Linked DNA regions of Homo sapiens. The protein of the gene in region 6 purifies or fractionates together with the protein of the main gene of each other region. This does not show direct contact. Each region holds a gene or a part of one and is shown on either strand. Other genes may lie near its edges. The genes, in order: CD109, KIFBP, TPD52L2, NSUN2, ARHGAP17, ACTR3 and NFASC.

Region 1 (3,500 bases), on a different chromosome or scaffold from region 6:
TGTGCAATTTACAAGTCGGTAAATAAGTTTTCCTAAAACTGTATTTCAATTTTATTCTTCATCTCAATTTCATACCTCAAAATATTTCTTTCCTTAATGATTCTCTTCTATTTCTTTCTTTCTTCAAAGAAGAAAGTATGAGGGTTTTTTAAGGATAATCCACTTGCCTCTGCCCCAATACTGATCTCACCACTTCTAACCCAGGAATTATCCACCCTCTCCTTTGCCTTAACCACTTTCACCTTTCTAATGTGCCTTTTGAGAGACCGTCCACCTCTCTCCTTTCAACTACCAAACTTCTGGAAAGAATAAATTTTGATTATATTTTTCACCATCCATTTATTCCCTCAAATTTGCTTTTGCTTCCAACATTCAACTTAAAGCCATTTACTTAAGCGTCACCAATGTTCTTTCCTCTGTCCTCCTCTTCTCTGACCTGAGAGAATTGATTATTAACTATTAAACCTTCCTTCTTGGAACTTCTTCTTCCCTTGGCTTCTGAGACATTTTCAATTTACCCTTCTCTGATTGCTCGTTGTCTATTCTATTCTTTTCTTTTCTTTTCTTTTCTTTTCTTTTTCTTGAGACAGGGCCATGCTTTGTTACCCAGGCTAGAGTACAACGGCACTATAACTGTAGCTCAAGAAATCCTCCTGCCTGAGCCTCCTGAGTAGCTGGGACTACAAGCACATGTCACCACGTCCAGCTACCTTTTTTTTATTTTTAGTAGAGATGAGGTTCCAATATGTTGTCCAGGCTGATTTCAAACTCTTGAGCTCAAGCGATCTGCTCACCTCAGCCTCCCAAGTTGCTGGGATTACAGGCATGAGCCACTGTGTCTGGTCTTTTTCCCTTCATTAACTTATTTTCCTCTTTCCAAGCTTCTCTCAAAAGACTTGTTCTTTCCATGAGCTCTGTCTCTCTTGTGCATCTTATGTATTTCCAGGACTTCAAAATATTGTCTGCCTCTATGAAAATAATGCCTAAATCTCTCTCCCCAGCTGCAATTTCAAAACTATCTGCTGGACATCTCCACCTGGATGTCTCCCCAAACTCATATCCAAAGCAGAATGAAACATCTTTTTAGAAAATATATACACAAACCCCTATCTCCTTTTCATAACTGCCACACCAGCCAGCAGCTCTTTCCTCCGGCACACCCTTCCCGTCTCTAGTACGTGAAGTAACTGTTCCCTCCAAAGGCCAAATATGTCAGCAGAGGTGGGACATTTATGAATGGACATCTGTATAGCTCTGGAAGTAAAAGATAATAGTACCAGGCACAGGCTCACATACAAGAAGCACTATTTACAAACCGCATTGTATTTTTTATACAAAAAATAAAAACTCCTCTAGCCTTCTGCACTTTTAATATTATATTATCCTTCTGGGACCTCTGAATGTCCTCCAGTGCCTTCCTTTCTCTTATTCCCCACTCCCCATTCATTCATGTTTCACATACAGCAAATAATCAATAAATAATACATTAATGAGAAGAAATGTCTGTGGGGAAACAACTAGTTTCAGCATTATAAAGCCCTCTTCACAGGACATAAAGGATCAACAGTAACCCAGCCCAAATTCTTATGGGATCTGTTTTCTATTTCCACCACAATCCTTCAGTGAGTCACTAGGACAGTGACTCATCCAGTGCTAGAAGAGGAGCAGCACATGTTTAACTTGGAGTTTAAAGAATCAGTGTGTTCACTTTTAACTTCACCCAATCGTTGATTCACAATCAAACCCCAAGTCATGTTTCTCTGCGGCTGAAAATGAACACCAGCGCTTAGGGTTGAGGGTTGCTTAAAAGCAAACATGAAAGTCCACGAGGAGCCTTCCCTCCGCCGCCATGAATCATCACAGGCTTGCAGGGGCATGCTACTCACCCTCGAGCTTTCCAGTATTTGGTCGAGTACAATTTGTGAGATACCAAAGGGCAGTTGTTCTCATTCTAATGTGACTAAGAATCACCTGTGGTCATGGTGGAACATAAAGGTTAGATTCTCTTTTTTTTTTTTTTTTTGAGATGGAGTCTTGCTCTGTCACCCAGGCTGGAGTGCACTGGTACAATCTCACTGCAGCCTCTGCCTCCTGGGTTCAAGCGATTCTCCTGCCTCAGCCTCCCAAGTAACTGGGACTATAGGCGCCCACCACCACACCTGGCTAATTTTTGTGTTTTTGGTAGAGACGGGGTTTCACCATGTTGGCCAGGCTGGTCTCGAACTTCTGGCCTCAAGTGATCCACCTACCTTGGCTTCCCAAAGTGCTGGGATTATAGGCGTGAGCCACCACACCCAGCTGAGATTCTTGATTCTTACCCATGTCTTGAGGGAGGCCATGAATCAGCCTTTTTAATAAATACAATTTGGACTCTGAGAAACAAAGCAACAGAATTTAGTTTTTAAAAGGTCTATGAAGCTTCTAACCCAGCCCCCACCCCTTATACAGAACAAATAGTGCATAAAGAGCAACTCCACCTTGAGCTAAAATAAGAAACTTTCACAGTATGCAAGTAAGCATTTTTAAACTCCTTAGTTAGCCTTATTTTCTTCCATATCAGAAGAATCAGCATTTGTAAATATATCTTAGGTCTTAAGCTCAGCTCTCCATATGTTAGGAAACTTTCGTAGAGTATACTGGAAATAGCACTGGACTGCAAATTTGGGAAACTGCAATCTGTTTCCAGCTCTGCCACCAATAAGTGATTTGACCTTGGGAAAATCCCCAGATCCCATGCCTCACCTCAGTCTCCCAGCCATATATTAGGCTATTGAATTTGCTTATCTTTGAGGTCCCCTCCAGCTCCAAAACTCTATGAGGCTGAAAGTAAATTAAGAGGAGAGCTGGCATTTCATTTTGTAATTCTTTCGATTCAAATTAGATTTCATTAGATCCAGGTCTATCTACTGCAAGCAAATGTGAAAATGATTTTAGTGGAAGACAACTGCAACATTGCATCAATATCCCAAAATCAAGGAAATAAAAATACTTCACTCTCTTCCCAGCAATAGAAAACCTTATGGTCTCTGGACCTCAGATACAACTAACTTCAAATTCAGGCTTCACCATTTACTAACTGGGTTAACTCAGAAAAACTAATTCTTCTCTCTTTGCCTCAATTTCCTCACCTCCAAAATGAAGACAAGAGTATCTACTTCATCAAGTTGTTAAAATTAAATATAGTGCATAAAGTCCTTGGCACTATGAGGAAACTGGATATTTAATATGTTAAATCCCTTCCAATCCCCTCCTAGGGATGTGTCTTTTATAGAGTTCCCGGTTCAAGATTGTCACAATAGGTGATTAATAATTGCCTTTGACATAAACTGTTGCTACTCTCTTCTAGTAACAATAGCTACCATTTTCTTGAATAATTCCTTTGTGTTAAGTGCCTTGAATATGTTACCTCATTTAATCCTCACAATATCCATATAATTGTATAAGGCAGAAACCACTATTTTTCAGATGATGAAACTGAAGCCTAGTGAGATCATGACTGC
Region 2 (4,129 bases), on a different chromosome or scaffold from region 6:
GTCAGCTAGCTTTTTGTACTGCACGTGATGACCTCCAGCACTTGCTGCCAATGCCTTAGCTTTGTCAAGTGCTTCTGGACCAGTGCATGTCTCCAATGTTATTCATTTCTTAGTTCGGAGACATCGACATCCTCATTGATAACTTGCTCTGGTTTCTGGACAGATAATTGCAATCTTTTTTGTAGGAAAGAAATATTCTGTCTTGCAATATCCAGAAACTTGTGTATACACCGATCAACACCAGTTCCAATTTCTTCCTGATTGCTGCCATTGACATAGTCCTGACTTAACGGAGAGGCAAAGCAAGTCTGGAAAGATGACTCCATGTCATCCACCAAAGTACTGTTAGAAGGTCTCAGAGGCCCTGGAGCTGCTGGTAAGTAAAGGAAGCCTGGCCCCAGAGCCCCGGTGGTGGTTGGGGCCCCGATGGCTGCCCAAAGAACATACTGCCTAGCAAAGCAGCCATGCCTGGAATAATTTTTTTTTCTTATTTTTAGTAGCGATGAGGTGTCACTATGTGCCCAGGTTGGTCTTGAACTCCTAAGCTCGAGTGATCATCTCATCCCAGCCTCCCAAAGTGCTAGGATTACAAGTGTGAGCCACCACATCCGGCCTTTTCTACATAATTCTAAATATGGCTTATAGTCTTCTTCCTCCCTCTTCATATTGCCAATTTTTGTTAATATAAATTATTATTTTTAATAATTGTGTACTGTTCTTCTGTTTGGATGTAACGGAATTTAATCATATTCCTACTGACATTTATATTGTTTTCCTTTTCTTTGCTTTTTGAGACAGGGTCTCACTCTGTTGCACAGGCTGGAGTGCAGTGATACAATCTTGGCTCACTGCAGCCTTGACCTCCTGGGCTCAAGCGATCCTCCTGCCTCAGCCCTGCGATTTTCCTTCTTTAATAATCAACACTGCTGTGATAAACATCCATGTTCACCTGTCCCAATATTATTTTAACTTTTTAAAGTATTTTTCTTTTTTTCACCCCTTCTTTTCACAGGTGTTGACCAATATTACTTTAGAATATTGATGTGGATTTTGTTGTTGTTGAGAAAAGGTCTTGCTCTGTCACCCAGACTGCAGTTGCAGTGGCATGATCATGGCTCCTCCAGGGGCTCAAGTGATCCTCCCAGCTCAACCTAGCCTCCCCAGTAGCTAAGACTACAGGCGTGTACCACCATGCCTGGCTAGTTTTGTGGGTTTTTTGTTTTGTTTTGTTTTGTTTAAGAGACAGAGTCTCACTTTGTTGCCCAGGCTGGTCTTGAACTACTGACCTCACGCCATCCTCCCACTTCGGCCTCCCAAAATGCTGGGATTACAGATGGGAGCCACTGTGCCCTGCCCAGATTTATTTAAGAAACCAAGTACCATATAAATGGGAAACAAAAAGTATTATAAGAATTCAAAGGTAGGAGGGAGAGATCAGTTTGGCCCAAAATGGTCCCAAGAAAGTTATTAATACTAAAGGAAGTGATTCTTGAGATAGGTTTTCAAGAATGGGGAAGAATTCCCTAAGATGCAAACAAATGAATTTGGTAAGAAAGGAAGCTGCAGATTTTGGACATTTTATTTTGAATTAAGAATGTATTCCGAGCCAGGCACAGCGGCTCAGGCCTGTAATCCCAGCACTTTGAGAAGGTGAGCCAGAAGGATCACTTGAGTCCAGGAGTTCAAGACCAGCCTGGGCAATATAGTGAGACCCCCATCTCTACAGAAAATTAAAAAAATTACCAAGAATGGTGGCATGCGCCTGTGGTTCCAGCTACTATGAAGGCTGAGGCAGGAGGACTGCTTGAGCCCAAGAGGTGGAAGCTGCAATGAGCTATGATGGTGCCACTTAACTCGAACCTGGGCGACACAGTGAGACCCCATCTCTAAGAAAAAAACAAAAACAAGACAAAACCAAAAAAGAATGTACTCCGGTCATTGTCATTTCCTTGAGACGTTAAGATTTAAATTACTTTGGATTTTCTTAACAGAATGAACAGGAGTTGGACTGGTGGAGAGGAAAGCGCATGACGATGTAGGAGGGTCTCGGACACCAATGCATCGCCACGTCTAAGTGAAGCAGCAGCAAGCGATATTGGTGTGGGCGACGAGGGTGGACACGGAGTCTGGGGACGGCCGACTGTGGGAGATCTAGTTACAAGGCAATAAGTCCATAAGACTGGCTTTTTTGAAGACCACAGACGCTCTTTGGGACTCAGTCCAGAGCTACAAAAACGTGGGGACGAATTGCGCCTTACAACGTCTGCCCTTGGCCTTGGCAGGGGCTCCTCCCCATCCCTCGCCATTTGCCAACAGGGGCCGGCCTGGCCGGGCTCGCTCTCACCTGCGCCTGGATGCAGAGAGAGATGCAGTCGTGCGAGAGCCGGTACCTGCGCAGCAGCCGCAGGCATTTCACCAGGTGCTCCTCCCCCGCCGACAGCTCCTCCGTGTCGATGTGGTTCACCCCGAGGTGGAACTCGATGACTGCCAGCCTCACCGCTCGCTGGGCGACGGGCCCCTCGGGCTCCACCACCTCAGCCGGCAGCCCCAGGGCGTGGTCACCGGCACCCGGGCCGTCCTCGGCCTCAGGCCGCTCATCCTCGTCCTCAGGCGCAGGGCCGAGCAGCGCCTTGACCTCTTCCAGTAGCGCCCGGGCGCTGTATTTGGACTTGTATGGTTCCTTCTCCGGATTTTTATGCAGTTCCACCCGCGACAGAGCGAGCGCCGCCTGGAATTTCTCGCAGACCTCTGCCCACGGAACGTTCGCCATAGCGGCCTCTACTGCCTGGCTTTCCTCAATGTTTGCAGTCGGGACTCCCGCCTTCCTTCTGCTTTGCGACACTTTACTTACGGCTCTCGACACGTTGCGGCCGCTGTGGAATGGGAACCAATATAACCCTCCCGGAGAACCGCAATACGCTCGGCAATGACCAATGGGAAGACGCAGCAATCACCACAGCAACCATTCTCATGGAAATGAAGTTGTCAATGAGCGTGTTCCCACCTCCTTCCCCGCCCCCTGCAGCGGTGAGTTTATCTCCAGATTGACCCTGTGAGGATGGATTTATATAAATGTTTAATATCGGCTTACTTTAACGAAGCATATCGGAATATTGTTTACAAACATAGCTAGCTAACTCTACTCGCGTTGATATGAACTGAAAGGCAAAAACCTTTAGACATTAAGTGTATAGCCCAGCCTGTCACTGGATAAAACTTTTTTTAAAAAAGGCCAGGCGCAGTGGCTCATATCTGCAATCCTAACATTTTGGGATGCCAGTAACATTTTGGGATGCCCACTGGAGTGGGCAACATAGCAAGACCCATCTCTACATAATTTTTTTTAAAAAATTAGCCGGGCGTGGTGGCGCGCGACTGTAGTCCCAGCTACCATGGAGGCTGAGGCGGAAGGATGGCTTGAGCCCAAGAGGTGGAGGTTACAGTGAGCGAGACTGCCTCAGAAAAAAAGAAAACACGAGCATTAGAACAAATACCTAATGTATGCGGGGCATAAAACTTAGCTGACAGGTTGATAGGTGCAGCAAACCACCATGGCACATGTATACCTATGTAACAAACCTGCATGTTCTGCACATGTATCCCAGAACTTAAAAGTAAAATAAAAGAAAAAAAATTGAAATGTAGCCAAGAGCTGATTATTATCATTGACACATAATCTCTTGATCGAGAGCCATAAATATACAAAACACTCAGTGATAGACAAATATTTTCACTTCGACCCTGAAATACAGGTTGTAGGAATCTGTACAACTGCCCAAGGTAACAAGAGCTAAGTCCCACAGCTGTGAAAGCCGCCTCATGCCTTTTACCTTCCTAAGTTATCAAGTCAAATGGGGAGGGGTGATAGAAGATTTTAACTATTAAGCACCAGCTGTGTACAGTGCTTTGAGACATACAAAGGAGCATTGATTTTGGGAGCTCATAGACATATGGTTTGAACCTCAGACCAACCAGCTTTCTTATTGACAAGTTAACTTTTTTAAGCTTCAGGTTTCCCACAGTAAAATCTGAATGATACTACTTACCTCGACAGAATTATTCTGAAGAATAAATAAAATTAAACGTCTATCCTTTAAGTGTTAATGCTCCTAAAAAGTCCTTCCTAAAC
Region 3 (4,288 bases), on a different chromosome or scaffold from region 6:
CCTTGGCAAGAGCGGTTTTTCTGTGGTCCTTGTTGTGGGTGTGGCATGGTCACAGCCTCTGACCCAGATATGGCCATATGGGCCGGGCATGGTGGCTCATGCCTACAATCCCAGCACTTTGGGAGGCTGAGGCGGGTGTATCACTTGAGGTTAGGAGTTCAAGACTAGCCTGACCAACATGGAGAAACCCTGTCTCTACTAAAAAATAAAAAAATTTAGCTGGGCGTGGTGGTGCGCACCTGTGATCTCGGCTACTAGGGAGGCTGAGGCAGGAGAATCTCTTTAACCCGGGAGGCGGAGGTTGCAGTGAGCCAAAATTATGCCACTGCCCTCCAGCCTGGGTGACAGAGCAAGACTCTGTCTCAAAAAAAAAAAATATATATATATATATATTTATATATAGGACCATATGGTCCCACAACCCTAGGGACTCTGACCCTCCCCGATGACGACGTGGTCCTACATGACGACGTGGTCCTATAACCCTGGGACACCTGTCCCAGATGTCGCTCAGCTCTGAATTTGGGGAGTGCTGCTTTCTCACTTGGCCCTGTCCACGTGGCTTCTCTGAAACATACCCTTCAAGGTTGGGGTGGCTGTGGAATGTTTCCCAGAAGACATGTTCCTATACAAAGACAGAACAGGTCACATTTCATAAATCTCACATATGAGAGGCCCATGTTTTTGTCCTAGGACATCGTAAGTTTTGAATCCCAAGGGTGTTTTGGAGCTGTGGGCTGTGCCCTTCCAGTCCCCCACAGCAGTGCTGTTGCCCAAGAATCTCCTAGCGAGAGACCAGGGGCTACTGCCAGGTGACAGAAAAGGGAACATCAGTTCCGCTATACCCACAGCTCACCTGGCGGCCTGGGGCCTGCACAGGGCCTGGTTGAGGCAGTGGACCCCATTTTTGGGCCGTCTGTGGAGTTGATGTTCCTGCCAGCTGGTCCCTCTCTGTCTTCCCTGGAACTTCACCTGCAGTTTGATGCCTGAGTTAAAATTGTTCTTCTAAATAATTCACTGTAGACTTTCTGTTTTTAGCTATGTGAAAACTTCTGAGAAACTTGGAGAGTGGAATGAGAAAGTGACCCAGTCAGACCTGTGAGTGCCTGTATCATCAGCACCTCCTCCTTCCTCCTCTCCGCCTCCTGACACTCAGTCGGGGAAGGGGGCTGTGCACACTTGGCACAAAGCTTGTTTTGGTATTTGCTGGCTATTTTTTCTTCCTATAACTTTTCTTCTCTCAGGTAAACTATCCTTTAAACTTTTGTGGAACAGGGAATAGTAGCTGAGAGAAACTCACTCAGCCACCTGACCACACTTAAAACTCCCCTCTGCCTGATATGCGTCCCTTATGTAAGAGGCCTGCACTGGTCCTGGCTGTATCTCTAACTAATAGAGCTCCTTGGCTTCCGGCAGTGCACAAGCTGGACAACACCACTTGGCCTGGGTTTGTTGGTGGCGAATTTTTGTTTGTTCTAACCCTAACCCTTTTCCCTGCTTAGCTCCAGCTGTTGGGTTCTCAGAATTCCTTTCCTCCTTTAGGGGTAGTTCTTGAGTGGAGGGCATGGTGTAGGATATGCTGGTGGAAATTTGAAATCCTCACGATCTGGGAGGCACTGCATTGTCAGAGCATCAGCCAGTGTGGATCAAGTGTGGATAGTTTTGTATGTGTGTGTCAGTGGTGTTGTTCAGAGTGACTCCTAATATTTGGAGATCCTTAAACTAGATAATAGCACTTCATTTACTTGTGCTCTGATCTGATTATAACGTCTTTAAACTGAGGAGGGGAATATTTTTAAATAGTCTCTGTGGGATTTTTTCATCTGTTATTTAGAAGGAAGCGCTGTAATCGTTGCCACAGAACATGGGCAGAAAGTCCTCCCATGTTGGTCTGAAAGGAAGCAGTTGCTGCCGAGCTTGTCTTGAAGGTCCTGGGGGACCAGGCTGGCACTGCGTGCACATGGAGCCTTTGCGTCTGGTGTCACGGTGGGAGGCTGGTGTCAGGAACCCCGGGCGGTTCTCGGCATGTTGCCCCGGGTATTCCAGGGACCCGGGTGGTTCGTGGGCATGGCTACAGCAGCCAGCTGTACATCTGGGTGCTCTGGGGACCCGGGCGGTTCACGGCATGTTGCCCTGGGTATTCCAGGGACCCGGGCGGTTTGTGGGCATGGCTACAGCAGCCAGCTGTACATCTGGGTGCTCTGGGGACCCGGGTGGTTCATGGCATGTTGCCCTGGGTTTTTTTTGTTTGTTTGGTTTTTTTTTTGAGACAACGTCTCGTTCTGTCTCCCAGGCTGGAGTGCAGTGGCGCCATCTGGGCTCACTGCAAGCTCCGCCTCCCGGGTTCACACCATTCTCCTGCCTCAGCCTCCCCAGTAGCTGGGACTACAGGCGCCCGCCACCACGCCCGGCTAATTTTTTCTATTTTTAGTAGAGACAGGATTTCACCATGTCAGCCAGGATGGTCTCAATCTCCTGACCTCGTGATCCGCCTGCCTCAGCCTCCCAAAGTGCTGGGACTACAGGCGCCCACCACCACGCCCGGCTAATTTTTTGTATTTTTAGTAGAGACAGGGTTTCATGGTGTTAGCCAGGATGGTTTCGATCTCCTGACCTCGTGATCCGCCCATCTCGGCCTCCCAAAGTGCTGGGATGACAGGCGTGACCCACTGCACCCGGCTTGAGCAGGGTGTTCTAGGGACCCTGGTGGGCTGTGTCTCGGGCTGTTGAACAGTGACTTTGCTGGGCAGCAGATGGTTCCTAGGTTGGGACAGTGACGGTCATCCTTGCAGTTTGGGCATCAGGCGGACGCACAGTGCAGACTCAGTCTGAAAATAGTCTTAGGAGACTTCAGTGCTGTTTTGTAAAACCAACTGACATAAAGCTGCCGGGATCCTATTTCAAATAAATAGTGTTTTAGAGAGCTTATTACAACACTCAGCGTCCCGACCCCTCTGGAGAAACCTGTGGCTCAGCATGGAAGCATATGGCCAGTGCATCACCTGGCCGAGGCCATTCCCCTGAGTTCTGTGGCGAGAGCTGTCAACTGACGGTTCCAGAGTGGAAGCGTTTCTGCCGGGAAGGCCCAGGCCGAGGGCGATGGTTTCTGCCGGGACGGCCCAGGCCGAGGGCGATGGTTTCTGGTGGGAAGGCCCAGGCCGAGGGCGATGGTTTCTGCCGGGACGGCCGAGGCCGAGGGCGGTGGTTTCTGCCGGGACGGCCCAGACGGAAGGGATGCGGCTTGGGAGGTGGGGCCTGAGGATGTGGCCATGGCGCGTGCTCTTCCTGGCTGGTGCCTCTCCTAGTCAGCTTCAGGAGATGGGCTGTAGATGTACCTCCACTGCCCAGAGCTCTGCAGGGGAAGGCAGTAAAAGCTCCCTGCATCCTGACCCACGTGTTTGTAGATCCTTTCAGCTATTGGCGCCCTGGAGGATGGACGGGAAGGAGAACGTGGCCGGTGGGTGGAGGATAGCACTGGTGCCTGGCCCCATGAGGCTGCAATGCGGCCACATTCTCAGTGGGTCATGTCTGAATGCGAGAGCAGCTGTGTTCTGCGAGTGGTGAAACAATTGCCTGTTGCATTCTATTTATAGGCAGAGGTAACTAAAAACCTCAGTGCTGAGAGGGGCATCATATAGATCCTGCAGTTATGAGCTGGTTCACTTGGAGTTGTTTTGGTTGCAGGTGACAGAAAGCACGACTCAAGGTAGCATCAACCAAACAGGGAGGTGGGAGCACTCACCAGGCAGAGAAGTCCCTGCCCCCACTGCTGCAGCCCAACAGTGTGGCCCCATATGGGTCTCCCTGGACTAATGGCTGCGGCCTTGGAGGTGGTGTGCTCTGGCCAGGCCTGGATCACTTGTCCATCCTGAGTGGGAGTGGGGGCAGCCCCCAGAGACAGACTCAGGAGAGGGGGAGTGCAAGGATGTCCCCCAGATGCCCTGTGCTGCCCAGGGGACAGCTCACTGGCAGTGGGACGAAACCGCTGTCTGTCCAGGGCTCTCTTCCTAGAAGGTCTTAGGAACTCCCAAATGGGTGCTGGCTGGGGTTGCCCGGCCCGGTGCTCTCAAGGAGAGCTGAAGCTAGTTATTGGGTGCAGATGCTGGCTCTGACCCCTGCCCCTTCCTCCCGGGCTCAGCTTCCCCATCTGTCATGGAGTAATAACAACCCAGCCTTCTGGTCCACTGAGGAATGTGTGTGCCTGTGTGTTTGACGCTCTCAGAACAGGCCTGCAGCGCTGTGAGCCTTGGAAGGGGGCCTCACAGCTGCTGCCGCCACCTTGGAGGCC
Region 4 (4,288 bases), on a different chromosome or scaffold from region 6:
GTGTCGGGCTTTTAAGTCCTGAGTTTGTTTCCATCAAAAAATCAGAGTTTAAAAGCAGTCAAATGTGTTTGTGTTTTCCAGACATTCCAGTTTTATTTTCATGGTTTTCACTCTAGCTACAATTTGACGCATGGAAACATTGTGAGCCTGCATTGTTAAATTGAGTGTATTACTGCATCTCAGGTTTAGTGAGAATTGCTGAAACTACACTAAGATTTATGGCCGTGTGACGTGGTACACTTGGTTTGGCATTGGATTGAGCATGGTGCTGCATGACATCAGTGTGCTCATTTGTACGGTGCAGATGCCTGTATAGGTGCAGGCCAAGTTTCAAAGCACATCCTGGGTGGGGTACAGTGGCTCATGCCTGTAATCCCAACACTTTGGGAGACTGATGCGGCCGGATCACTCGAGGCCAGGAGTTCGAGACCAAGCTGGCCAACACGGCAAAACCACATCTCTACTGAAAATACACGTCTGTAATCCCAGCTACTCAGGTGGCTGACTGAGGCATGAGAATTACTTGAATCCAGGAGGCAGAAGTCACAGTGAGCTGAGATTACACCACTACACTCCAGCCTAGGTGACAGTGAGACTGTCTCAAAAAAAAAAAGGCAGTGTTTTTAGTATCCCCCATTTCTCCCCTAATTAAAAAAAATAAAAAAAATAAAAATAACATTGATGTCATCATTTATAGAAAGTTCAAATATATTCACAGATATGATGGCAGGAAATGCTTTATTCTTAGTTATATATAGGTAACAGCCTAGGAGCTCAAGTTAATGCATTAGTGGTTTCCAAGGTAGGATTTTTTTGGTATGTAAAATATTTTAGTGCATTATTGAACTGGTGTTAGAAATAATGAAAAATATATTTTTTAAAAAACTAATCAGGTATTTGTGGGACACTCTGACACTGCATTATTTTGATTCTGTGTGATCTGCACATTAAGTAAGTCATCTTGTATCTTTTTTTTCTGATGACCTTACCATTGTTACCTTATAATGGTGAAGAGCAGAGGAGTGTCCGCTTTTTCATCTGATCTCGAGCGTTTCATCATTATAATTTTACAGTAATATGCATAATCTTGTAACCCCCATGGCTCTCCTGTTTCTGATTGGGCCACGGTGTAGCTAGAGCCATGTTCCTTAAGCCTACAGCGACATCTCTGAGTGTTGCTGACTGTCCGTAGAGGATTGTGAATAGGAGCAGGGAGAACAACATTCGAAGTCTCATTTGGCATGCGACTGATAGAAGCACAAAGTTGTCAACAGACGACTTTAGTATTTATAATCCATAAATGTTTTGCTTTCTTTTTGGTCAGGTATCCTGAAGAACTTGCCTGGCACACAAATTTAAGTCGAAAAATCTTGAGAAAATCGCCACACTTGGAAAAGTTTCATCAGTTTCTAGTTAGTGAAACAGAATCTGTAAGTTGATTTCTTTAGACTTGCTAGTTTCCTTAAAGCTGTAAATGCATAGATGTAGTGTAGTTCTGTTTTTAGGTTCTTGTCACTAGAAGCAGTAGGTGGACATCACACACAGTAAAGACAACTGCAGTGTGTGCACCACCTGTGATTTCTGATTATTTGTATATCCGTTGCCTTGTTTGGTTTATCTAGTCATGAAATTTAGTAAGGATATCGATGCCAGCTAGTTAATTTCTTGTTTCCTCTTGCTTGTGTATTTGGATGGCTATAGGGTTGGGGTGAGCACTGCACTCTCATTTCCTTCTTAGGTACACATTTCAGATGCCTGTTGTACATAAAAAGTAGTATGTTTTTAAGGCCATCTTGGTAGGGAATAGGTTTTTGGTTCTGTTTTTTAAAATTGATTTATTTTACTAAAAATGAAGCTTTTGATTTTACTTTTTACTGTGTTTTTTTTTTTTCTTACCACACATTGCTCTTGGTAACCACAAAACACCTAAGCACCACAAAACCCCTAAGCACAGCTTTGGTCCTCACAGGACGGCATCTGTCTTCACATTCTCCGTAGCCACCCACATTCCTTGAGTGCAGTTAAGGTGCTGAGCTTTTTACCTTTAGCATCAGAGCATCCCCAGCAAAACAGCTATTTGCTTATGTACTAAATAATTCAATGAATGCCCATAAAGTTTGGGTATTTTTTTTGGAATTCTTAGTCTCACATTTAAAATCAGAGGTTTCGTCCTTCCTATTTTCTAAACTACTACCTTCTAGTAAATCTGTGTGTCACCAGATTATGGTTCTTTTTCACTTTGGCCTTCTGTCATCTAAGTAACCGACTAAACTGGGCTTGTGTCTGCCTGGCTTTTCCTTCCTGAATAGTAACAAGAACCAGGAACTAAGTGCTGCCACATAACCCCATTTCGTACTTGAGACCAGTGCACGAAAGGATTCTCTTGCTCAACTTTCAATCTAGATGGAAGGCCAAATAGAGATCAGTAAGCTGCTAGAGAACAGCTCAGGTTTGCACTTGGAAGAGAGCGTGGGGTTTGTGGGGTGTGATACACATGGATAGGTTGGAAGAGCCAGGTTTTGGCATGTTTGGAAGATGGAGGAGATGGGAGTTTAGGGTGGGTAGCAAATGTTGTAGGGAACTAGTATAGGTTTTTGATTAGGAGTCAGCGTGATGAGAGCTCTTGAGATGAATGGCAATAACCTCTGGGTTATGGAAAGCTGGCCACAAAACATCTACACAGGGTGGTCATGAATCTGGTTACTGTCTGCCGGGATGTCCCCATCTTACTTAATGCTTTAATCAAAACCTTGGATGGATACAGAAGGCAGGCATATCAGGATCACACGTATAACTCAAAAGCTTGGAATCAGTGTGCCTAGTGAGTGAATCACCACAGACTCATGCTGGCCAGAAACCCATGAGGTGAAAATTAGCAGCCATCAGTGTAAAAGCCTGTATTTAAGGCTCTTGACAGTCACATGCCTGAGTTTAAGGTGAGTGATGGATGCCTGGGTGGCTGTTCATTTCCAGAAGTCCCAGCTTTTGTAGGGTTGTGTTGGAGCAGAAGCCTCAGCTTCAAGGCGATTAAAGTAGAGGTGTGGTTGAGGCTAGTGCTGGGCAGGGCAGGAGGATTTTGTCTGCACCTGAATAGTTCTGCCTTGTAACAGATGTCCTGGCCGACTAGAGAAGACAGAGGGCAGGGAGTGTGGTGAGGAATTTTAGATATTGAAGGTCTAAAGATGGAAAGATGGAAGCAGTGGTTGATGTCTTCATCTCTTTGAAAGGTAGTTATGAGAAATAGAAAGTGGGCATGGGCTATGTCTGAAAATAGTGGAGGACTAAGAAATAGAATTTTAGGCAAGAAGGAAAAACCATTTGACAGTCACTTTCTGTCCTAAGTTGATGCTGTCTGTTGAAGGTATTTGTTTAAATATTTAATAGCATTTCTGTCTTTGAGAGCTGCCCCTCTAGCTTCTGTGCTCTACTGCTATGGGGAGTTGGGGCTCTGTAAGCTTCAAGTCCCTTTTCTTTCATGGAAGTTGGTATTATACCTGAATTTCTAATATTTGAATGGTATAGCAACCATTTGTCCGCTAGTGTACAGATCCATCTCATTTAGTGTTCTGTGTGATAGTATGAGTTCTCTCATTCTGTATAAGATTATGTGCTGTTTTCCTGTTGCCTTTGAAACAATGCCAAAGATTGAAATTGTCTGCGGTTTTTTTTTTTTTCCTAATTGTTGCTGATTTTTTTTTTTTCCTCAAGGGAAATATTAGTCGTCAAGAAGCTGTTAGCATGATCCCACCACTGCTCCTCAACGTGCGGCCTCATCATAAGGTAGCATATAGCAACTAGAAACGTGGGGGCGGGCAGCTTGTTACCAGTGTCATGCCTGTTTGTTTTGATGAAACCATTTTTTCTTAATATAATTAGTCCTTTTTTTCTTCTTTTCACTTTGGATAGAGAGTGATATGTACGTATCTTAGTTTCTTTTTTTTTTTTTTTTCTTTTTTGTCCTACTTAATTTTTATGGTTTAGAAAATTTTCTCCCCTTTAGTTTTACTGATTTGTTTACCATATGGATTGTCTTCAGTGATGGTGATTGGCTAAATTAGGTTGAAAATGATAGTGAACATGTATTGAGAGCTCATTGTATGGCAAGCATTACTCTGTGCTCTTTTTTCTTTTCTTTTTTTTTTTTTTGAGATGGAGTTTCACTCTTGTTGTCCAGGCTGGAGTGCAGTGGCGCGATCTTGGCTCACTGCAACCTCCGCCTCCTGAGTTCAGGCAATTCTCCTGCCTCAGTCTCCCAAGTAGCCGGGATTACAGGTGCGCACCACCACAC
Region 5 (4,288 bases), on a different chromosome or scaffold from region 6:
AGTCAGAACATCTGTTTTTAACTGGGAAACCTGTTGCTTCCTTGCTGTTGATTTCCTAGATGTGTGTGTGTATGTGTTTTCTGCTTAAGTAATCAGAAAGGACTAAGGAAGATAAACGGAGGCTGGAGAGTGCCTAGAATTGTTACTGCTTGGAAGTAGGTGGTTGGTTGGCCCCAGAATCAGGATTCTGGGTGTTTTTAGGTCAAGATGAAGGCTACAAAGCAAAGGGTTTTTTTGTTTTCGCCCCTGCGATCTAGGTGGAGAAGGAAGTTATATATGTGAATGTCATGCCCATCGTGTTTTGGTTTATCAATTTGTGGAATTCTAGGTGGTGTCTTGCAGTGAGATATTCTCCTCAGAAGGGAGACCTTTGAGTACTTTCACTGTAAGGTTCCAGGGGAGGGACTTGTAGAGAATTAGTAATGCCTGGAAGGAATGAGTTCGCATGATGCAGTTTGTTTACGATGGGTGGGTAAGTCTATTTGAGAAGACGGCCTGAAACTCACAGGGGCAAGGCTTATGAGGTGGTCTCATGGTGTGAGTGTCCCAAAGAAGAGAAGTAGGATGGTTCTTTTAGTCCACCTGCCTTTTGTTGATTCATGCATTCAACAGACACTTGTTGAGCCTACACTGTGTCCTGTTATCCAGGGTATTAAAGAATCAAAGGTGAATACGGGCATGGTTTCTGCCCTGAGGGAGCTCAGGAGATACGTGGAAGAGGTAGGCAGGCAAAAAATAATTATATACATGAGATAAGTGCTTAAGAGGGATGGCTAATGCACAGAGCAAAACCCAGCTGTCATTGGATTGAGGGAGGTAACAAAAGCTTCCCAGAGGAGAAAATCTGAGCACCTTTCTCTGCCTTCATTTTCAAGCCCTTATTTCAAATATCTCTTGTATTGATTAGGTCTCTTTTGGTTGTAAGAAAACCCAGTTCATAGCAAAGACGGGAATTGATTGGCTCATAAGTGACCAAAAGAGCCTCTAATAAGTAGTGTGGCTGCAGATTTGGCTTCTTCTGGGGGTTCCACTCTTTTTTTTTTTTTTTGAGACGGAGTCTGGCTCTGTCACCCAGGTTGGAGTGTAGTGGCGCGGCTCACTGCAGCCTCCACCTCCTAGGTTCAAGCAATTCTCCCGTCTCAGCCTCCCAAGTAGCTGGGACTACAGGCCTGTACCACCATGCCCGACTGATTTTTGTATTTTCAGTAGAGATGTGGTTTTGCCATGTTGGCCAGGCTGGTCTCAAACTCCTGCCCTCAGATGATCTGCCCACCTTGGCCTCCCAAAGTGCTGGGATTACAGGCATGAGCCACTGCGCCTGGCCTCGGTTCCACTCTTTAGGTAGGCACTGTGTCCACTGGGAGACTTCCACATCTTCCAAGTCTCAGAGGGAAAGAATACTCATCTCGCAGTCACTGTGGCCCGAGTCCCAGGATTGGCTCTGAATGCTTCTGGGTCACATGCCTTTCCCCAGAAATGGACTGGAGTCAGCGCACCCAAACCATATGGACTGAGAGTGGATGGTAATGGGTGGTAATCAGGCAAGAAATAAAGGTCATGGTGTGTCTTTTGTAGCCCTGCTAAAAAGAGAGATGTTTTGTTTCTTGAAAACCCTTAGATGCAGATCATCACCAATGGTGTTTTTGGGGAGATGATGTCTTGAGTAGAGGAAGGAGTACACTGGGATGAAGACCTTGAAGTTACAGAAGTATCAAGGAGAAAAAAAATTTGAGAGACAACTAGGAGAGCATAGTACTGAGGCTCTGATAGGGAGTGTCTCCTTGGGTGTTGATTTCTTCCCTGACTGAAGTTTCCCTTGGAGGTCTGAATGCTTTCACAGATAGTTGTTTTTTGAGAACCCAAGGTTGTAAACCCAAATGCCTAGAGGGCGAGGCCAGTAAAATGAATCAGTGCTTTGGGCCATGTGAAGGCCTCAGGGGACCTGGAGGACTGTGTCCCACCAAAGGGGCTGCTGTGGTAATGTAGGCCCAGTGTGGACCACCTGTGGAGTTTTCCTGAAATCTGCATTTTAACTAGCTGGCGTTTAATCCAAATTAAACTACGGGGACACTATATGCAGCTGAACAAAATATTTCTGTGGATCACCCAACTGCTTGTCTAGAAGGACTCAGAAATTGACAGTCCCTCTTTTTCATTTATTCCCCTGTACCTTACCCTGATGTTTTCAGTTCTTTGGATTTGTTGAAAAACAGCTCATCCTTTCTTTACTAAAATCTTGAAAAGGTCTGATAGTAACAGTCTATAACATTTCTATGGTGGTTTAGTTTACAAAGTGCTGTACTAAACCACCTGGCTTGGATTTCGTCTCCTGACAATGATAACTTCTCTCTGACAAAGATGGAAACCTGGCTGGGTGGGGTGGGGTGGCTCACGCCTGTAATCCTGACACTTTGAGAGCCCGAGGTAGGAGGATCACTTGAACCCAGGAATTTCAGACCAGCCTGAGCAACATGGTGAAACCCGGTCTTTACAAAAAATACAGAAAACTAGCCAGGAGTGGTGGTGTTTGCCTGTCTCAGCTGCTTGGGAGGCTGAGGTGGGAGGATCAACTGAGCCTGGAAAGTCGAGGCTGCAGTGAGCTGAGATCATGCCACTGCACTCCAGTCTGGGTGACAGAGCAAGACCCTGTCTCAAAAAAAAAAAGAAAAAAAAGAGGAAGAAACCTGACTTTCTAAGTTTGCACAGTTACTGAGTAGTGGCTGAGGCATGGCTTGGGTCCAGGGCCTCTTCCTGTGGTTCCCAAGTGCTTTTGAGTACAGGAACTGGGCTGCCTCTTCACCAGGGAAGGATTAGTGTTTATTAATGTTTATTAAACATCTTCTGTGCTTATGAAGCTGCTGGGCTTGGTGCTTTGCATACTTTTATTTCATTGCATTCTCATAGCCACCCTCTGAGGTGATGTTACTTATTTCTGATTTAATGATGAGGAAGCCAGAGATCAAAGAGGTCATCAAGCTCGCAAGAGACAGAGCCGTGGACCCAAACCCAGGTTTCTGATTCTGCAGCAGCTATAAATTCTGATCACAGAGATCTAATGACCTCTAGGAGTCTTCCACTCCTAGGAGGTATGTAGAATGGACCACTCACTAGGTAGTTGGATCCACTACCAGCAATGTGAATTCTCACACTGAGTCAAAATGTGTCTCTACCTACTGATCCCAGAACAGTCCCCTGCTGCCGAATTGAATGAATCTCATCTCTCTTCCCTGAGTCAGCCCTGCCTGTATTTGATGATCACAAACCTTATCCTTACGTTGCCAGCAGTAACATTCTGCATCCCTCACCCACTCCACTGTGTCCTTTTCCTCCCACTGATCTTCACTCTACCTTTCCTTCCCCCCACCCTTTTTTTTTTTTTTTTGACGGAGTCTCGCTCTGCCGCCCAGACTGGAGTGCAGTGGTACAATCTCGACTCACTGCAACCTCCACCTCCTGGGTTCAAGCGATTCTCCTTCCTCAGCCTCCCGAGTAGCTGGGCTTACAGGCATGAGCCACCAAGCCTGGCTAATTTTTGTATTTTTTAGTAGAGATGGAGTTTTGCCATGTTGGCCAGGCTGGTCTTGAACCCCTGACCTCAGGTGATCCACCCACCTTGGCCTCCCAAAGTGCTGGGGTTACAGGCGTGAGCCACCACGCCTGCCCACTCTGCCTTTTCTAGGGGAACTCTGAACAGTATTTCTGAGAAGGGATAGGTAATGTGTGCTTTGCTTCAATCTGAGTGGATTCCATCAACCTCTCCATAGAGCAGGGTGGAAAGAGGTCCTCTTGTCGTTGCAGCAGCTTCTCAATCTCATCTTTTATGGCCTTATTATGTAGTTTACATGTTAAGAAATCCAGAAGTATTTATAGTTGAGTGAAAATCCATTCTTTACTGGGGGGAAGAAATGAACTCTAAAACCATAAAAATGATGAACCAGTAGAAAATTTTCATCTGTAAATTTGAACCATAAAAGGATATGTTCATTTAGCATCATTTTTATATGTGTAAGCGGCATGTTACGCTATTATGGAATTGCCTTTGTAGCAGAGTGGACGAGGCAAAACCTTCCAAGTTTGATTATGGCCTAGGGCGCTGCAGTCAGTACGTGCACCGTGCATTTTTGTCAGACCACAGGATGTTTCACCTTTATCATTCTATTTCAGTTTCTCAAGTGTAGGTAGATGCTGTAGTAACTAGTGAAGTACAAATCCATGTAAAAATGTTAAACTCTCATCTGTTCGCTGTGTTTGTATTTTCTTAAAGGTAGGGATTAAAAGTGTAATAGGC
Region 6 (4,288 bases):
AAGTTGAACTTTCAGCATTAGTGAAATCAGAAACGAGGTACACAAACTTAGCACCAATGTGGAGATACATAGCCAAAATGTGAACGACCTCAAGTATGCCCCGTGGAGAAGCTAAATTAGGCAGTCTGAAATCCCCATAGTTTTTCTGTATATGGAATGTCGTTTTTAAGAGCTCATTGCCTATTCATAAAGTCCAATCCAATCTCAAAAAGACTGCTGAGTTTTAGGCTCCTTCCTTAGTTCAGCACATTAGCCTGGTAACTATCTGGTAACTATAGTATCAGACATGACTTGGTCATCTGATACCTCCCTCTAGTAGTCTAGCACAGGAATCTTGCTATCAGCTTTCCCAATAGAATGAGTCAGAGAAGCTAAGAAATGTTGCCAAATTAATTTTGAAAAAAATTTAATAAACCATATGCTATTCAGTAAAATATCAAAAAAATTATAACCAGTAAGTTCTATTCTGCAACTACCTGTGTGGTCTTTGCAAAGTCACTTTTCCACAATGTTATTTATGTCAATCATGTGTGTGATTTCACCCTGAACTGCATCAACTTTTTTAGCCAATGTTTGTGTTTGAGGGTGTGTTTGAAGGTGTCAGATATCCTTCAGTCTTCTCTCCCACTCTTCTCCTCACTTCTCCTAATCACAATATTCTAATCCCCTCCCCAATTGCTGTAACTCAAGTTGCTTCTGCCATATCTAAAATATCATCCCCACCTACTCTCCATCTACTAAAACATTCATCTTTCAAGGTTTGGGCTAAGAAAAATCAGTCTACTGCAGTAGAAACTACCCCACTAGTGCTTTAGTCATCTCATGAATGTATACATTATTCCAACTAATCATTTTAGCATTTAAAACAAGTCTCAGATTTTCTTGTTGCTCAGGAATTTATTTGGGAAAGATCCCATGTACCCACAATAAGAAAAAGATGTGTGGTTCCAATTCCGATATCGACTTTCTAATATAATTCCAAATAAGATTAACAATTTACTGCAACCTTGAATCTTATTAATTAAAAATGGAGGAAGTTTAGAATTAAGTCATCTCTAAATCAAGTGGTTTAACATGGGATCTGGACAATATCAAAATTGATCAATAAAAGCCAGAGGGAGAAATGAGGCCTGTTTCTACTGTTAATGTTGAATGTTACATTTCAGGACATGTCAATTACCTTGTACAACAATCTGATTTAGAGCCTGTGATCATTTACACTACAGAGATTTTGAAATGACTGAAGGCTTAGATAATTATTTAAGACCTGCTTCAGAAAAGTCATGATCACTTAGTAATCCCCCACTACCTTACGCAGAATGTCACTTCTAAGGTAGAAACTAGTGGAACAGAAAAAAAGTCGTAATTCGGTCATATTTGACAAATATGGGTATTTTGAAGGAACAAAAGTTGTATACTCATGTAATTCAAAGTTTTATTTTAACATGAAAAATAATTTTTACTCATTCATTCATCAAACACATCCACTAAACTACTATATGCCAAGCAATATGTCAGGCACTGGAAATATGAAATGAATAAAGCAGATGCTACTGTCGAATTACTTTCATCTGTTGTTGGATGTAACACTTAGGTAAAAATTTTAGGAGCAAAGTACTAATTTTTAAACAATAGATCCACTTTTATAAGCCCCACTTTCACCTTACATAGCTGGACTTCTCCCTCTAAACAACTAACACTACCATTTTTATGAAGAGAAATTCCGCACTTACTATCTCTCAAATCTTATCTAGGCAAAATATTTGTCCCTCCTCTAAGAGTGCCTTTACTATTAGACTAAGCCAAGGACAGAATATTTATTCATCTTTATGCACAGTACTTGAACCACAGTAGACAGTCAATCAATGCTTCTGGGATTGAAGGCTCAAAACTTGATGCAATATATAGGTAATATAAGTGAATGTTGGTGCTTGAATAAAAGAGAAACTTTATTTTAATTCAGCATCTTAGTTTTAATGTAATTATAAAAGTCACCAAAAATTGACAGAACACTAGAAAACAAGTAATTGCTAAATCAAAATAGAATATCGTATACTTTTAATCTTTCATTTTTTTTCTTTCAGGTTTTTCAGTTGCCTTCTTTCCTAGATCACGTATTTCTATCGTTGTTCCTTTTTTATTGTTCCTGTGACCACTGGAGCACTAGTAATAAATCCTTAACTCAAATAGGTTATATTTAATTTCAGCACCCAAGCTCCAAATGCATCAGCTAAACTGGGTTATAGCATGGAGAATACCTCAGACGACCACAGATTTTATTTTTGTTAAGATTCTATCAAGACTGAGGCAAATTATAATAAAAGTTCTCATATCATAGAAAACAAATTACGTGGAAAAGGATAAACATTTATACAGTACTGAAGCGTTATCAACAATGAGTAGCAGAAATTCTTTTTCACTGAAGTCCAAAAGCCATCCCAGCCCTCCAGCAGATCTAAAGATTCTTGCTAAAGGTCAATTCAGGATATAGACCTAATACAAGAACAAGGTATTTACTGTCAAGATTTGCTATGAAAGTTCCACGTAACTTGTAACAACTCTGTCCTTGGCCAACTATATATACAAGGTGCTGTTACAATGAAATATATTTTAAGGCACAGTATTCCAAACTGAGTAGAACATTTTGCTCCCAGAGTCTGCACAGATTTTGGATTATTTATACCAGCTAATAGAATTAGTACCAATTAACCCGAGTTGGAAATCTGGGTGGTAACAGACTTCAGAGGGCTATCCAAGGTACTCATGCCTGGTGACTATGAACTACGAAAGATCAGAAAGAATGGGTCACAGGAATCAAGGTTGAGCTGGTAAGAAAAGGGGGAAAAGACTGGACTTCAGTATTGACAGATTAGCCCAGAATGAAGAGGAACAAAAACATCCTTTACTATGGTACAAATAAGCTTTATAACACAAATAATCTTCTCAATAATTTTATAAACATTCTAGTATCATCTTTAGGGTTATCTGAAAGAAGTTTCTATAGATATATTCTCTAGTACTTTTCTGTAGAAATTAAAAATAAAGATCATAATTGGCCTATTATCCCTGTATTTCATATTATTTCTAAAAATATTCCTAGAAATATCTGCAAGAATAGTTATTTTAATCTTTTAAGTAGCTGTGAAAACAAACCAAAAAATTGTATTGGGGGGTCTGAATAACCACTTTATCTCCTATAGAAAAGAAGATAGGTAAGAAGAGGATGAGTACTTATAGTAGGTGCCATGAATTAATGTCTAAGGGTGAAGATGTGAAATTTGCTCACTTTTTGAAAAGCAGGCATCAAGTTAGATAATGATCATTGATTTTATTTGTCCATTACTATTTCCCACTTGATCAAAGCACTGCCTATTAAAAAGGATAAATCAGATAATACCTTTACTACCACTAATGAATCAATAGAAAAGGCTAGGTTTTGCAGTCAGAATCTACTACACTGCTAATATTGCTATTAATAAGCTACATTATATTCTAACAACTCAAAGAAATTGCAGGATAATCCAGTATAATGCCTTTACCTTATATATAAATTGAATCAAGGTCCAGAGAGTTCAAATAATTTGTCCAAAATAATACAAATATATTTTCCAAGTTTTAACAAAAAACAAAGTTCGAGGAGCTATATCATCAATTATCAGAATCAGAATTAAAAATTAAATCACTGGCTTCAGTTAGTGCTTTTGCTACCATGCTCACGTTGCTTGATATCTAATCAATGTTACAGACTATTTAGTTCACCTTGGCCAACCTCTACATATTTCCAGCTGAAGTTGCTTTAAGTTGAAAAAACGGTATACAATCACAGAGGAGAGATATAAAGAAACAAGAATGCTGCTACCATCCTATTAGGGTTCACTCCTCTAAAAGTAGAGCAAAGGGATATCAGAACATACACAAGAAGGGCTGGAGTTTTGTTTCCCCAAATAAGTTAAGCGTAAGCTTCAAGAAAGTTTTTGATCTTCATGTTTTTGTAGCAAACAGTTAAGAACATCTCTGTATAAATATGCCTGAGATTGTCATCAAATAGCTTTATAAACATGTCTTTCTAGCTTATTCACTTAACTACCCAACCATCGCCGGTGGAAAAGACATATTTATGACAATGCTAACAATATTTTATTGGGCCAGGAGCATGACATCTTTACTGCTTATCAATATAGTTCTTTATCAAAAGATCTTTAATAAAAGCAAAGTGCAGAACAGTATATACAGTAAGTTCCTATTTGTGTAAAATAAGAAAGCTACATTTATTTCTACCTACACAGAA
Region 7 (4,288 bases), on a different chromosome or scaffold from region 6:
ATGTTTATGAGAACGGCAGTCTGGAAATTAAGATGATCCGCAAAGAGGACCAGGGCATCTACACCTGTGTCGCCACCAACATCCTGGGCAAAGCTGAAAACCAAGTCCGCCTGGAGGTCAAAGGTAAAGGAGAGGGTTCGCCAGTGGGAGTTTGGAGAGGGACAAGGAGGCCATGCTGGCAGTTATCCACATACAATATTCACATTGAAAATGCACCACACCTGTCTTTAACCTGGAGTGGGCTGCCCAGTTTGCACCTGTGGAGTCCTTTTAGGATCAGTGTGGTCCAAAGAGAATTAGGAAGGGAAACCTTCTGCTCACACCAACTCCCCACTACCAGCCCAGAAATTACATCATATATTCCTGAGCCAGATGGAGTGGATTTGGGGCATTATCTGCTTTGGGGATTACCCACCCAGAACTCTGCTCCGTTCATACCATAGCATACTGTTTGTGCCCCACTCCATAGTTGGCCCAAGGCCTCGAGGGCAGACATATGCCACTTTGTGGCCGCATGGGGATGCTGGGCAGAGAACAGGCCAGTGGCGAGTGCTCTGGGCTTCTCCACAGACCCCACCAGGATCTACCGGATGCCCGAGGACCAGGTGGCCAGAAGGGGCACCACGGTGCAGCTGGAGTGTCGGGTGAAGCACGACCCCTCCCTGAAACTCACCGTCTCCTGGCTGAAGGATGACGAGCCGCTCTATATTGGAAACAGGTTTCTCTTCCCCCTTCCCCCTTCCTAGTGCTAGTTTGAGGCGCATTTTCTTTTCCCTTGCTGTTGGTGACACATGGAAGAACACAGGGACAGGGAACCCGTGTCATGCATGTCACCAAGGAGCTTCTGCAGAGGGGGTGATGGCCTGGGCAACTCCCCTGCTTCAGGGGAGACCCCCCCACCGACCCTGTACAACCTCCCTCTCTCCCACCAGCTCCCTGCTTCTCTCTCCTACACCTCCTCTCTCTCCCTCTTCTCAATCTCTTCACTTCTCCTCTCCCTGTCTCCCCTCACTTCGCCTCTTTTCCCTTTCATTTTTGCCCCTGTCTTCTCTTTTCCTCCTTTGCTGCATCCCAGGCTCCAGCCTTTCAGCCCTATTTGCAGTACCCCTAATCTTCAGCAGAGGGCAGGGTTGATCTGAGCCAGCTCTCAGCCCTGACTGAACCTGGCATGCTTTTACCACACCCACGCCTGCCCCGCTCCTCAGACCCTGATTTCATTGGTGTAGGGTAGGACTTAGGACACTGGCAGGGTTTAAAAGTCCCCCTGGGGGTTCCAGTGTGCATCAGGGTTGAGAACCACTGTTCCGAGCCTCCCTCCCCAGGGCTTACTTTGCTTTACCTTCTTCCACCCCGAGGGAGCAAAGTTGTGCAGGGCCCTGCAGTTGGACACGGTACCAGCGGTTTCTAGCCATCATTTGACTTTTTGCAGAGGGTGTTCCCCTCTGTAAACCTTCTGGCACTCAGTGCTGACAGCTCTACAGCCCCATTCTGCTCTGTGGCCTCCCCTCTCTATAGGAGACAGTTCCCAGGAGCCTGGGGTCAGGCTGGCCTGAGCATGGGTGCAGAGGAGACAAGTCTGGGCTGAAGACAGACAAAGCTACAAGTATGAGAGGAGAAGGAATACCAACCTACCTTGGGGTCATGGGCCTCATGGTGCCCTCATCTGGGAGGGGTGCACAGCACAGTAAAGGCACAGAGGCAGGCACACGTACAGAATTTGAAGGTGGCAAACGTGCTTCACAGCCACTTGAGCTCCGCCCACTCTCTGTTCCCCTCCATCAAGTATGATGAGTGCTCCAGGTGACTGTGAAGACCTCACCTCTGTCAAAGCATTGAGAGGGAGCCTCATACCCCCAGAAGGAGCTTCCCTTGCCCTCCTGACTCGAGAACCCCCTCTAGGGAGAAAGCAATGGGCAGGACTCAGCACTCCCCTACCCCCTCCTCCCAACCCTTCCTCGGTACCTTTGCAGGATGAAGAAGGAAGACGACTCCCTGACCATCTTTGGGGTGGCAGAGCGGGACCAGGGCAGTTACACGTGTGTCGCCAGCACCGAGCTAGACCAAGACCTGGCCAAGGCCTACCTCACCGTGCTAGGTAACTGCCCATGCTCACCCTGGCACTGACCAGCCCCACCCCCTCCCCAGCAGCCAGAGAAGCAGTGGCCCGGGGCAGTTCCGAGGGCAGTGCCTGCAGTCAAGTGGCCGGGTCAGGCGTGGTGATCTCTTCTTGCCTCGTGATGTCAGGGTTAGGGAGCTGCCAGTTTCAGAACAAGCTGTGCTGGACAGGTTACCTCCTGAGTGGAGTCATTAACTTCCCCACGTCTCAACTGAAAGGGGCCTGAGTGATATAGAGAAAGTGGAGAGGGGTTTCTCGTTGTGATCATTTTACCTTTCTTACAGCTAACTCCACCACTAAGTCAATTAAAACAATCCATCCTTAAAGCAAGACTGAGTTTGTGTTTGTGCTTCCAATGACCTCTGCCAGCCTTCCTTTCCCTCCCGCTCCATCCCTGGGTTTTGGTAGCGTTTCATCACATGCTATGCACTAAGCAAGATGACGTTGTGTCTTCCTGTCCTGCACCCAGGCTGGACTGTAAATACTAAGCTAACCCAAACCAAGAGGAAGGAGGCCTCTCCCTTCCAGGCAAGCAGGTCCTCTGTCACCTCTGCCTCCCCGTGGGTGCCCTACTGCCACTAGCATTGGCGCAGTGGAGAGGCACAGTTGCAGAGAGGGTGGGCCCAGACACGATAGTCACATTGGGATGGTAAGGAAACAGAGGTGCCGCCCCCAGCTGTGGAGGAAACACAGATGGCCTCTATAAGGGTAGGGGATTCCCCATGGAAGGACGGGGACAGCCCTGCCTAGAACACCTCAGCCCAGAGGCAGCTGTTTAAGCCTCGGCTGCCTACCCCCATCCTTCTAGAACACCTTTAATGCTGGATAACCTGCTAACCTGGATAACCCGTCTTACCTTTGCAGCTGATCAGGCCACTCCAACTAACCGTTTGGCTGCCCTGCCCAAAGGTAATTCCCACTAATCACAGTCCCCTGCCAGTGCCCTCTCTTGGCACCCAGGGTGTGGAGTCTGGGAGAAGGAAGCCACTTTGGGAAAGGGCGACAGTGTGTAGGTTTGTGGGCAGCACTCCTGGCTACATGGGACCTCCTTTGAGTTGCCCACGTCCACCTCCCCACGGCCCTTTGCTGGGCTTCCTGCTCCTTACAGGGTGAGCTCGGAAGTTCTCGGCTGCTGTTTTACCCCATCCCTTGCCTCCATCCACACTCACCGCTCCCTCAGGGTGGCCTGTCCTCCCAGCAGTCTTTCAGGTCCTGTTTGCAGGGAATGCGAAAGCCTGCTCCCTTCACATCACCTGGAAACTCATTGTTCAGCCTCCCTGCATCTATTGCTTTCTATCCATTTACAATCTACACACACATGCCACACATACGTGAACGTGGGCCTGTAGGACTCACCTTCCAAGTCCTTCTAGTGACCATCTGAAAGATGGAAATACCTGGTTCAGGGAGTCAAGATGGAGAGAAAATCTTGCCTACCCGTACCACTCAGTAGCCGATGTCTTTATCCCAGGCCAGGATGGCACTTAGACCCACTAAAGCAGTCCCAGTGAGATTCATGCCCTAAAAAAGGTGCTGCCCTCACCCCTGTTTGCAAGCCTGCTAGGCTTCTGTCCTGCTGTCCATCAATGAAATGCCTAAGCCAAGTCTCCATCTCCTCCCTGGTCTGATCCCCTCTCTTTGTTGCCCCCACTCCCCTAACCCATCTGCCATGTTCAGCAGGCCAAGCCCTCTCCTGGGTTCCCATCTCCTCAGAGCCTTGGCACACAAAGTAGAGGACAATTAATGTGAGAAAATGGGACAGAATCCCACACTCCCTCATCAGCCTTCCTAAGTGTCGTGAGCATGGGTCTGATGACGGGTGGCATTCCTGAATGCTTGCACTCTCAGAAGATCCACCAAGACGGAATGGCGTTGGTCCCAGTTCTGTCTGCATAAGCCCCTTTATTTCCTTGTTCCACACCCATTGATATTCTTTGTGGGGGGGGGCTGGGATTTCAGGAGTCTCCTCTTTGTTTTCCCTTGGGCCCCTGTGGGAAGGGAGTGGTCCCTGTGCTCACCCCTCAGGGCAGGCTGGGGTTGGATCCAGCTGGTAGCGAAGACAGCCCGTCAGGGAGCTGTCCAGGGCTAGGGCCATCACAAGGGTGGACCTGCTCTAACTCAGGAGGCCTGCGTGGTGTCTTCTGCCACCAGGACGGCCAGACCGGCCCCGGG

What was found.
Region 1: the proteins of ACTR3 (region 6) and CD109 fractionate together in Homo sapiens (co-fractionation; one large-scale study listed by BioGRID). This does not show direct contact.
Region 2: the proteins of ACTR3 (region 6) and KIFBP fractionate together in Homo sapiens (co-fractionation; one large-scale study listed by BioGRID). This does not show direct contact.
Region 3: the proteins of ACTR3 (region 6) and TPD52L2 fractionate together in Homo sapiens (co-fractionation; one large-scale study listed by BioGRID). This does not show direct contact.
Region 4: the proteins of ACTR3 (region 6) and NSUN2 fractionate together in Homo sapiens (co-fractionation; one large-scale study listed by BioGRID). This does not show direct contact.
Region 5: the proteins of ACTR3 (region 6) and ARHGAP17 fractionate together in Homo sapiens (co-fractionation; one large-scale study listed by BioGRID). This does not show direct contact.
Region 7: the proteins of ACTR3 (region 6) and NFASC fractionate together in Homo sapiens (co-fractionation; one large-scale study listed by BioGRID). This does not show direct contact.

The regions. Positions count from the first base shown.
Region 1 is NC_000006.12:73,702,703-73,706,202, reverse strand, and holds part of CD109 (CD109 antigen isoform 1 preproprotein), read right to left. Parts: intron 1-3,500. UniProt on the Homo sapiens protein: Modulates negatively TGFB1 signaling in keratinocytes.
Region 2 is NC_000010.11:68,987,474-68,991,602, reverse strand, and holds the start of KIFBP (KIF-binding protein), read right to left. Parts: upstream 2,801-4,129; 5' UTR 2,771-2,800; coding exon 2,345-2,770; intron 476-2,344; exon of another isoform or gene 1-475. UniProt on the Homo sapiens protein: Activator of KIF1B plus-end-directed microtubule motor activity. Required for organization of axonal microtubules, and axonal outgrowth and maintenance during peripheral and central nervous system development.
Region 3 is NC_000020.11:63,874,778-63,879,065, forward strand, and holds part of TPD52L2 (tumor protein D54), read left to right. Parts: intron 1-1,038; coding exon 1,039-1,098; intron 1,099-4,288.
Region 4 is NC_000005.10:6,622,706-6,626,993, reverse strand, and holds part of NSUN2 (RNA cytosine C(5)-methyltransferase NSUN2), read left to right. Parts: intron 1-1,324; coding exon 1,325-1,430; intron 1,431-3,708; coding exon 3,709-3,780; intron 3,781-4,288. UniProt on the Homo sapiens protein: RNA cytosine C(5)-methyltransferase that methylates cytosine to 5-methylcytosine (m5C) in various RNAs, such as tRNAs, mRNAs and some long non-coding RNAs (lncRNAs).
Region 5 is NC_000016.10:25,008,459-25,012,746, reverse strand, and holds part of ARHGAP17 (rho GTPase-activating protein 17), read left to right. Parts: intron 1-4,288. UniProt on the Homo sapiens protein: Rho GTPase-activating protein involved in the maintenance of tight junction by regulating the activity of CDC42, thereby playing a central role in apical polarity of epithelial cells.
Region 6 is NC_000002.12:113,959,219-113,963,506, reverse strand, and holds the end of ACTR3 (actin-related protein 3), read right to left. Parts: 3' UTR 911-4,288; downstream 1-910. UniProt on the Homo sapiens protein: ATP-binding component of the Arp2/3 complex, a multiprotein complex that mediates actin polymerization upon stimulation by nucleation-promoting factor (NPF).
Region 7 is NC_000001.11:204,974,701-204,978,988, forward strand, and holds part of NFASC (neurofascin isoform 1 precursor), read left to right. Parts: coding exon 1-123; intron 124-570; coding exon 571-718; intron 719-1,970; coding exon 1,971-2,095; coding exon of another isoform or gene 2,096-2,124; exon of another isoform or gene 2,125-2,446; intron 2,447-2,980; coding exon 2,981-3,025; intron 3,026-4,267; coding exon 4,268-4,288. UniProt on the Homo sapiens protein: Cell adhesion, ankyrin-binding protein which may be involved in neurite extension, axonal guidance, synaptogenesis, myelination and neuron-glial cell interactions.